Linked DNA regions of Homo sapiens: region 2 is linked to region 1. Evidence: fine-mapped expression QTL. A gene starts in region 1. The other region holds a variant in brackets. All regions are shown on one strand. Distances are between the middles of the regions.

Region 1 (5,380 bases):
GTTTGTTTGTTTGGTTTTTTTGAGTCGGAGTCTCACTCTGTCGCCCAGGATGGAGTGCAGTGGTGCGATCTCCGCTCACTGCAAGCTCCGCCTCCCGGGTTCACGCCATTCTCCTGCTTCAGCCTCCCAAGTAGCTGGGACTACAGGCGCCCGCCACCATGCCCGGCTAATTTTTTATATTGTTATTAGAGAGACGGGGTGTGAAACCGTGTTAGCCAGGATGGTCATGATCTCCTGACCTTGTGATCCGCCCGCCTCGGCCTCCCAATGTGCTGGGATTACAGGCATGAGCCACCGCGCCTGGCTGTTTTTTTTTTGTTGTTGTTGTTTTTTTAATTGAAGTGAGCGATAGAGTCAAAACCTCTTTTTTTTTTTTTACGTTTTAGTTATTTCCTAGATTTCCAATCTCTCCAGGATGTGTTACTACATCACTATAAAGAATTTATAATTTACATTCCATAGTATGTTTGTTTGTTTATTTTGAGATGGAGTCCTGCTCTGTCACCCAGGCTAGAGTGCAGTGGTGCAATCTCGGCTCACTGCAACCTCCGAATCCCAGCATCCCGGGTTCAAGCAATTCTCCTGCCTCAGCCTCCCAAGTAGATGGGATTACAGGCGTGCGCCACCACACCCAGCTAATTTTTTTGTTTGTTTGTTTTTGAGAGGAGTCTCCCTCTGTCGCCAGGCTGGAGTGCAGTGGCACAATTTCGGCTCACCACAACCTCCGACTCCCTGGTTCAAGCGATTCTCCTGCCTCAGCTTCCCAAGTAGCTGGGAATACAGGCACGCGCCACCATGCCCAGCTAATTTTTTTTTTTTTTTTTGAGACAGAAGTTTGCTTTTGTCCCCAAGACTGGGGTGCAATGGTGTGATCTCAGCTCACTGCAACCTCCGCCTCCCAAGTTCAAGCGATTCTCCTGCCTCAGCCTCCCAATTAGCTGGGATTATAGGGTTGTGCCACCATACCTGGCTAATTTTTGTGTTTTTAGTAGAGACGGGGTTTCACTACATTGGCCAGGATAGCCTCAATCTCCTGACCTCGTGATCCGCCCGCCTCGGCCTCCCAAAGTGCTGGGCTCACAGGCGTGAGACACCTCGCCCAGCCTTTTTTTTTTTTTTTTTTTTAAACAGAGTCTTGCTCTGTCACCCAGGCTTGTGCCACCACACCCGGCTAATTTTTGTATTTTTAGTAGAGACGGAGTTTCACCATGCTGGCCAGGCTGATCTGGCCTCCATCTCCTGTGCTTAAATGATCCACCCACCTCCGCCTCCCAAAGTGCTGAGATTACAGGCATGAGCCACTGAGCTCGGCCCATAATGTTTTTAAAAAGTATATCTGGAGATATTGACACAATTATGAATGCAGGCTGTAACACTTAGTAATATGGTCAATAAATTATTTTGCAATTTCAAAGTATCATTACAAAACTAATTTAAAAAGCAGCCGGGCGCGGTGGCTCATGCCTGTAATCCCAGCACTTTGGGAGGCCGAGGCGGGCGGATCACGGGATCGAGAGATCGAGACCATCCTGGCTACACAGTGAAACCCTGTCTCTACTAAAAATACAAAAAAATTAGCCGGGCATGGTAGCCGGCGCCTGTAGTCCCAGCTACTTGGGAGGCTGAGGCAGGAGACTGGCGTGAACCTGGGAGGCGGAGTTTGCAGTGAGCCGAGATCGCGCCACTGCACTCCAGCCTGGGCGAGAGCGAGACTCCGTCTCAAAAAAAAAAAAAAAAAAAAAGAAAAAACTAATATAAAAAGCTGTTGAATTTCTAAACGCATTTCCAATTGACCTTTATCAATTGCCAATAGTTTTCAAAGTGACAAATGCTGAAATTTCTAACGTTACTTTGGAATAAGCAAATATCTCTCTTTGTTATAGATCATCTGTAAAACTAATGCCATATTGAAGAAAGCCAAAGTTATAAAACTAAATTTGTGAAACAGCCCTTTATTCTTTCCTTTTCTCTTTCTAGGATGGGTTGAATTAGTACTAAATTTGGGTTTCATAAGGGCGAATTTATCTTTGAAATGGATTTTCCTCCCATCAGGTAGTCTTAATTGCTTTATAAAAATCTAAAATCTAACACAGGTTTTTAAAAAGTAAATTTTTCAAGCAGTTCATTTCCTGATGTTCGGCCCAAAAGTAAACACTGAGTATATACATTTACTTCAAATTAAAAACTGACGACCGGAAAGCATACTTTTAAAGGTAATGTCCTTGTGGAAAAAGAATTAAGAATCACGAGAACGGAACTGCTATTTGCTACCTCTGGTTTTCCGTTCACAGAAGCACGAGGAGCCCAGCGCTGCGGCTCTGCCTCGCTGGGCCACCCCTTTCGGGCACGACCGGGAGCGGGTGCTCCTCACACCGAGCGCCCGGGCGAGCACAGCTGCAGCCTGCGGATGGAGCCCAGAGCCCTGCCCTGCAGATGACGCGCCGCTGCAGCTTCGCCCACCCTCCCACAAAATGGCTGCGGGTGGCGCCAGGGATGCTGGGCGCGCGCTCCTTGGAACTAGAGAGGAGGTGGCCGGGGCGGGGCCGGGGGAGGGGGGTAGGGCAGAGCCGGCGGGAGCCCGGCGCTGATTGGCCGGCCTGGCTGGCGGGCCCCCGCCGCTGGTTCGTAGCCGGCGCAGCGGCCTGGGCTGGGATGTGAGGAGCGGCGGGTTCCGGGCTCCGGGCTCTGGGTGGCGGCGGCTGTGAGCGGCGGCACTGCGGCGCAGGCCAGCGGGCGCCGTCGGCGGCTGGCCCTGTCGGCCGCGGGATGAGGAAGCGGACCGAGCCCGTCGCCTTGGAGCATGAGCGCTGCGCCGCCGCGGGCTCGTCCTCCTCCGGCTCGGCCGCCGCGGCGCTGGACGCCGACTGCCGCCTGAAGCAGAACCTACGCCTGACGGGCCCGGCGGCGGCTGAGCCGCGCTGCGCAGCCGACGCGGGAATGAAGCGGGCGCTGGGCAGGTGAGGCTTCGCGCGGAGCGGGGGGGGGGGGGGGGCCGGTCCCTCACTTTGCGCAGGTGCGTCCCGCAGGGGGCCGCGGTACCTCCCAGCCCCTCCCAGAGTGGCCGTCCGCCCGATCCGCGGCCGCCCCCGTCCGCGCCTGTGTCCCGCATTTGGCCCGCGGCAGCCCCACCCCCGCTCCCTTCCCCAGGCACCGCGGCGGGAGCGCCCTGCCCTGCCGCTGACCCCCTGTGTCCTGCTCCGGCCCTCTCGCCAGGCACTCCTGGCCTAGCCTTGCACCCCGACCCTTTCCCGGGGAAGCCGGGGGGACCCTTACGCTGGGGGCTTGGCGCCGCCCGAAGTCATGACCCCGCGTGGGAGAGCAGGGTAGGGGGTGGGGAGTCCTTGGAAGATCCCTGGACGCCAGGCACAGCAGAGGCGGGAGGCAGAGGGGCCGGCGCCAGACCCTGAGAGCGCTGGGGCCCACTCGGACCTCCTCCTCCTGCTCTGCATCAGGCCCCACACCGAGCGCCCGGGCGGGCGCCCCTCGGGCTGGGCTGCGTGCGCGGAGCCTTACTGGCGCCTTGGGCCCTCGGCGGCTCTCCCCGGTAACTAGGGTCGGGGGCGTGCGTCGCTCAGAACTCGGGGACCTTTGGGGAAGGGCTCAGTGGGCGGCGGGGTGCTAGGGGAAGGAGGGACTCGGAGCATCGCAGCCGTCGGAGGGAAACCTGCCCTTCGCTCTGCTGGTGATGGTTCGTGGTACTTGAAATCTGTCCGCACAAGTTCGCCTCCTTGGGAATCATCTCGCAGTCCTGAGTCGTTTGGTTATTGGCGTTCAATAACCTTTGGGTTATTGGGTAGAAGATGAATGCGTTTATATAAAGCCACTTTCAAAACTGAGATGGGAACGTGTTTCATAGGGACAGATTTCTCCTCCCATCTGCTGGTTTCCTAATTATCTGGCTGTTGTAGAACGTAGCATTCCTGACAGCTTTGAAGCCTTGCTACTTCGTGGTGGTTTGAAGAAGTTACTATATGATGATCTCAGGCGTTGTAGCAGAGGCACTTCTTTTTTGACCATCTGGAATGCCCTTAGTTGACGCTGGCCACTTGAGTGTAAAATATGCGTATCGCTCCTAAGGAAAAGTAGAATTTCAACTTCATTGCTTAAAAAAATCATGAAATTAAACTATAGACACTTCTAAGTCGATGGTTTGACAGAAGGGCGGAGACTGATAGTTTTGTGTCTTTATGTGTAAAATTATGTAGCATCTGATCAATATCTTTTGTGAAACTAATCTGTTCTCTTTGCTATGGAAAGATTTATCTGCATTAAAAACTCATGATTTAACTTTAATACAATTTTATTAACAGACATGGCATAACGCTTAGATAAATTGGAAAATTCTTCCTTCGAAAAAATCAAATTGCCGGGCGCGGTGGCTCACGCCTGTAATGCCAGCACTCTGGGAGACCGAGGCGGGCAGATTATCAGAGGTCAGGAGTTCGAGACCAGCTTGACCAACATGGAGAAACCCCGTCTGTACTAAAAATACAAAATTAGCCGGGCGTGGTGGCGCATATGCCTGTAATCCCAGCTACTCGGGAGGCTGAGGCGGGAGAATCGCTTGAATCTGGGAGGCGGAGGTTGCGGTGAGCCAAGATCTCGCCGAACCGAGATCGCACCAGTGCACTCCAGCCTGGACAACAAGAACGGAACTCCGTCTCAAAAAAAAAAAAAAAAAAGAAAAAATCAAATTGTTTTACACAACGTTTGGGGAAACAGCGGCGACCTGGCACCTTCTTGAAGAATGTACTGTATTAAAATTACCCGATTAATTTTTATTTTCGTGTCAGGACAAAGAGAGACATTCCAGTGGTGTCCATATCCTTTGGATAAGCAAAAGGCTGTTAGGGGTAAAAAGCAAAACAAAGGGAAAGAAGACCAAATTTGTTAGGTTGTCTTCCTTCCCAGCTGGCTGTCTCAGACATCCTTGAGCTTTCTTCTCTTCCTCGCTCAGGCTCTGCGCCACCATCACCTCCTCCTCACTGAGGCCTTCTTAGACCAGCCCACTCCTGTCGACCTTGTTATCACTCGAGATTGTAATTTTTGCTCGTGTGCCTCCCCCGCAACCAGAATGGAAGCGCCATGAGAACAGGAGCTTTGTTTTCTCCACTTAAGTATCTCCAGTACCTGGCACGTAGTAGGTAGCAGAAAATACTTGTTGAATGAACAAATATCCATAGAACAGATATCCATTGCGCCACAGAGCCGGCTCGTTTGTGTCTTTTATGATCCTTCTTTGGATCCTTCCGCACATTTTTTAAACTCTTTATTGTCGACATACGTGGAAGTAGAGAAGACAATCTAATGAGCCTTCTTCATGTGTCCATCACTTAAAAGTTTTCAGTGTTTAGCCAATTTTGAATCATCCATCCCTCTT
Region 2 (5,380 bases), 59 kb after region 1:
CAGCTTTCTACATATGGCTAGCCAGTTTTCCCAGCACCATTTATTAAATAGGGAATCCTTTCCCCATTGCTTGTTTTTCTCAGGTTTGTCAAAGATCAGATAGTTGCAGATATGCGGTGTTATTTCTGAGGGCTCTGTTCTGTTCCATTGATCTATATCTCTGTTTTGGTACCAGTACCATGCTGTTTTGGTTACTGTAGCCTTGTAGTATAGTTTGAAACCAGGTAGTGTGATGCCTCCAGCTTTGTTCTTTTGGCTTAGGATTGACTTGGCGATGCAGGCTCTTTTTTGGTTCCGTATGAACTTTAAAGTAGTTTTTTCCAATTCTGTGAAGAAAGTCATTGGTAGCTTGATGGGGATGGCATTGAATCTGTAAATTACCTTGGGCAGTATGGCCATTTTCACGATATTGATTCTTCCTACCCATGAGCATGGAATGTTCTTCCATTTGTTTGTATCCTCTTTTATTTCCTTGAGTAGTGGTTTGTAGTTCTCCTTGAAGAGGTCCTTCACATCCCTTGTAAGTTGGATTCCTAAGTATTTTATTCTCTTTGAAGCAATTGTGAATGGGAGTTCACTCATGATTTGGCTCTCTGTCTGTTGTTGGTGTATAAGAATGCTTGTGATTTTTGTACATTGATTTTGTATCCTGAGACTTTGCTGAAGTTGCTTATCAGCTTAAGGAGATTTTGGGCTGAGACAATGGGGTTTTCTAGATATACCATCATGTCATCTGCAAACAGGGACAATTTGACTTCCTCTTTTCCTAATTGAATACCCTTTATTTCCTTCTCCTGCCTAATTGCCCCGGCCAGCACTTCCAACACTGTGTTGAATATGAGTGGTGAGAGAGGGCATCCCTGTCTTCTGCCAGTTTTCAAAGGGAATGCTTCCAGTTTTTGCCCATTCAGTATGATATTGGCTGTGGGTTTGTCATAGATAGCTCTTATTATTTTGAGATGTGTCCCATCAATACCGAATTTATTGAGAGTTTTTAGCATGAAGGGTTGTTGAATTTTGTCAGAGGCCTTTTCTGCATCTATTGAGATAATCATGTGGTTTTTGTCTTTGGTTCTGTTTATATGCTGGATTACATTTATTGATTTGCGTATATTGAACCAACCTTGCATCCCAGGGATGAAACCCACTTGATCATGGTGGATATGCTTTTTGATGTGCTGCTGGATTAGGTTTGCCAGTATTTTATTGAGGATTTTTGCATCAATGTTCATCAAGGATATTGGTCTAAAATTCTCTTTTTTGGTTGTGTCTCTGCCCGGCTTTGGTATCAGGATGATGCTGGCCTCATAAAATGAGTTAGGGAGGATTCCCTCTTTTTCTGTTGATTGGAATAGTTTCAGAAGGAATGGTACCAGTTCCTCCTTGTACCTCTGGTAGAATTCAGCTGTGAATCCATCTGGTCCTGGACTCTGTTAGGTTGGTAAGCTATTGATTATTGCCACAATTTCAGCTCCTGTTATTGGTCTATTCAGAGATTGAATTTCTTCCTGGTTTAGTCTTCGGAGGGTGTATGTGTCGAGGAATATATCCATTTCTTCTAGATTTTCTAGTTTATTTTCATAGAGGTGTTTGTAATGTTCTCTGATGGTAGTTTGTATTTCTGTGGGATCAGTGGTGATATCCCCTTTATCGTTTTTTATTGCGTCTATTTGATTCTTCTCTCTTTTCTTCTTTATTAGTCTTGCTAGTGGTCTATCAATTTTGTTGATCCTTTCGAAAAACCAGCTCCTGGATTCATTAATTTTTTGAAGGGTTGTTTGTGTCTCTATTTCCTGCAGTTCTGCTCTGATTTTAGTTATTTCTTGCCTTCTGCTAGCTTTTGAATGTGTTTGCTCTTGCTTTTCTAGTTCTTTTAATTGTGATGTTAGGGTGTCAATTTTGGATCTTTCCTGCTTTCTCTTGTGGGTATTTAGTGCTATAAATTTCCCTCTACACACTGCTTTGAATGTGTCCCAGAGATTCTGGTATGTTGTGTCTTTGTTCTCGTTGGTTTCAAAGAACATCTTTATTTCTGCCTTCATTTTGTTATGTACCCAGTAGTCATTCAGGAGCAGGTTGTTCAGTTTCCATGTAGTTGAGCTGTTTTGAGTGAGTTTCTTAATCCTGAGTTCTAGTTTGATTGCACTGTGGTCTGAGAGATAGTTTATTATAATTTCTGTTCTTTTACATTTGCTGAGGAGAGCTTTACTTCCAAGGATGTGGTCAATTTTGGAATAGGTGTGGTGTGGTGCTGAAAAAAATGTATATTCTGTTGATTTGGGGTGGAGAGTTCTGTAGATGTCTATTAGGTCTTCTTGGTGCAGAGCTGAGTTCAATTCCTGGGTATCCTTGTTGACTTTCTGTCTCGTTGATCTGTCTAATGTTGACAGTGGGTTGTTAAAGTCTCCCATTATTAATGTGTGGGAGTCTAAGTCTCTTTGTAGGTCACTCAGGACTTGCTTTATGAATCTGGGTGCTCCTGTATTGGGTGCATATATATTTAGGATAGTTAGCTCTTCTTGTTGAATTGATCCCTTTACCATTAAGTAATGGCCTTCTTTGTCTCTTTTGATCTTTGTTGGTTTAAAGTCTGTTTTATCAGAGACTAGGATTGCAACCCCTGCCTTTTTTTGTTTTCCATTTGCTTGGTAGATCTTCCTCCATCCTTTTATTTTGAACCTATGTGTGTCTCTGCACGTGAGATGGGTTTCCTGAATACAGCACACTGATGGGTCTTGACTCTTTATCCAATTTGCCAGTCTGTGTCTTTTAATTGGAGCATTTAGTCCATTTACATTCAAAGTTAATATTGTTATATGTGAATTTGATCCTGTCATTATGATGTTAGCTGGTTATTTTGCTCATTAGTTGATGCAGTTTCTTCCTAGTCTCGATGGTCTTTACATTTTGGCATGATTTTGCAGTGGCTGGTACCGGTTTTTCCTTTCCATGTTTAGCGCATCCTTCAGGAGGTCTTTTAGGGCAGGCCTGGTGGTGACACAATCTCTCAGCATTTGCTTGTCTGTAAAGTATTTTATTTTTCCTTCACTTATGAAGCTTAGTTTGGCTGGATGTGAAATTCTGGGTTGAAAATTCTTTTCTTTAAGAATGTTGAATATTGGCCCCCACTCTCTTCTGGCTTGTAGAGTTTCTGCCGAGAG[G/A]TCTGCTTTTAGTCTGATGGGCTTCCCTTTGAGGGTAACCTGACCTTTCTCTCTTGCTGCCCTTAACATTTTTTCCTTCATTTCAACTTTCGTGAATCTGACAATTATGTGTCTTGGTGTTGCTCTTCTCGAGGAGTATCTTTGTGGCGTTCTCTGTATTTCCTGAATCTGAATGTTGGCCTGCCTTGCTAGATTGGGGAAGTTCTCCTGGGTAATATCCTGCAGAGTGTTTTCCAACTTGGTTCCATTCTCCCCGTCACTTTCAGGTACACCAATCAGACGTAGATTTGGTCTTTTCACATAGTCCCATATTTCTTGGAGGCTTTACTCGTTTCTTTTTATTCTTTTTTCTCTAAACTTCCCTTCTTGCTTCATTTCATCTTCCATCACTGATACCCTTTCTTCCAGTTGATCGCATTGGCTCCTGAGGTTTCTGCATTCTTCACGTAGTTCTCGAGCCTTGGTTTTCAGCTCCATCAGCTCCTTTAAGCACTTCTCTGTATTGGTTATTCTAGTTATACATTCTTCTAAATTTTTTTCCAAGTTTTCAACTTCTTTGCCTTTGGTTTGAATGTCCTCCCGTAGCTTGGAGTAATTTGATCGTCTGAAGCCTTCTTCTCTCAGCTAGTCAAAGTCATTCTCCGTCCAGCTTTGTTCCGTTGCTGGTGAGGAACTGCGTTCCTTTGGAGGAGGAGAGGCGCTCTGCTTTATAGAGTTTCCAGTTTTTCTGCTCTTTTTTTTCCCCATCTTTGTGGTTTTATCTACTTTTGGTCTTTGATGATGGTGATGTACAGATGGGTTTTTGGTGTGGATGTCCTTTCTGTTTGTTAGTTTTCCTTCTAACAGACAGGACCCTCAGCTGCAGGTCTGTTGGAGTACCCAGCCGTGTGAGGTGTCAGTCTGCCCTTGCTGGGGGTTGCCTCCCAGTTAGGCTGCTCGGGGGTCAGGGGTCAGGGACCCGCTTGAGGAGGCATTCTGCCCGTTCTCAGATCTCCAGGTGCGTGCTGGGAGAACCACCGCTCTCTTCAGAGCTGTCAGACAGGGACATTTAAGTCTGCAGAGGTTACTGCTGTCTTTTTCTTTGTCTGTGCCCTGCCCCCAGAGGTGGAGCCTACAGAGGCAGGCAGACCTCCTTGAGCTGTGGTGGGCTCCACCCAGTTTGAGCTTCCTGGCTGCTTTGTTTACCTAAGCAAGCCTGGGCAATGGCGGGCGCCCCTCCCCAAGCCTCGCTGCTGCCTTGCAGTTTGATCTCAGACTGCTGTGCTAGCAATCAGCGAGACTCCGTGGGCGTAGGACCCTCCGAGCCATGTGCGGGATATAATCTCCTGTTGTGCCGTTTTTTAAGCCAGTCGGAAAAGCACAGTATTCGGGTGGGAGTGACCCGATTTTCCAGGTGCCGTCTGTCACCACTTTCTTTGACTAGGAAAGGGAACTCCCTGACCCCTTGCGCTTCCCGAGTGAGGCAATGCCTTGCCCTGCTTTGGCTTGCGCACGGTGCGCGTACCCACTGACCTGCGCCCACTGTCTGGCACTCCCTAGTGAGATGAACCTGGTACCTCAGATGGAAATGCAGAAATCACCCGTCTTCTGTGTCGCTCACGCTGGGAGCTGTAGACTGGAGCTGTTCCTATTTGGCCATCTTGGCTCCTCCCTCAACACAATTCCATGCATTTGTTTTTAAAGCAAAGGGCCAGCTTCCTCTTTTTCCTTCCCCTGAGCAGTCCCTGTTGACTCCTGTTACCTTTCTTTTCTTATCCCCTTTTTTCATACGGAAGGTCCTGTAAGCCTGCATCAGGTAATTGGAATTTGATAAAACCCAAATAACCAACCCAGGCTTTCCCTTGACACCACACCTCTTATGGCTGCCGGTATCAAGGCTGCTCTGTTACTCACAGTGATTGGAATGAGACTTAGCCCCCTGTTCAGACCCTCAGCACTCAAAGACCATCACAGCTCAGTAAGTTTCAGCCTTTCCCGCAACAAATATTTTGCAGGTGAGCTAAAAGAAGTATGACAGAGCAGGTCGTTTTCCATTCACTCACATTCTCACTTCTTCACCCTCCACGGCACCCATGTGTGCAGGATCCATTCTCCATCCTGCCCGTTGATGTTTGTGGTTGCTGGTACATGATGACGTGACTGGAGGGTGGACAATGAAAACTGGGGGGTGGACAGTGAAAACTGGGGGAAGCAGGAGCAGCCAGAGGCCTCAGTCCCAG

The links.
Region 2: its variant is fine-mapped to the expression of ABHD12 in whole blood (TOPMed, PIP above 0.99).

Annotation. Positions count from the first base shown.
Region 1 is chr20:25,388,090-25,393,469 of GRCh38, reverse strand. ABHD12 (abhydrolase domain containing 12, lysophospholipase) reads left to right here and starts at 2,635. Exons shown (of 13, transcript NM_001042472.3): 1 at 2,635-2,957. The coding sequence starts at 2,767. RefSeq lists silencers at 2,506-2,925, 2,966-3,015, 3,056-3,215, 3,386-3,545.
Region 2 is chr20:25,329,385-25,334,764 of GRCh38, reverse strand. The region is part of intron 2 of ABHD12 (abhydrolase domain containing 12, lysophospholipase); the gene reads left to right. Among named protein-coding and RNA genes, the nearest start is that of ABHD12, 59 kb to the left of the region's middle. RefSeq lists an enhancer at 3,974-4,495. The variant G/A (reference allele first, on the strand shown) is at 3,162.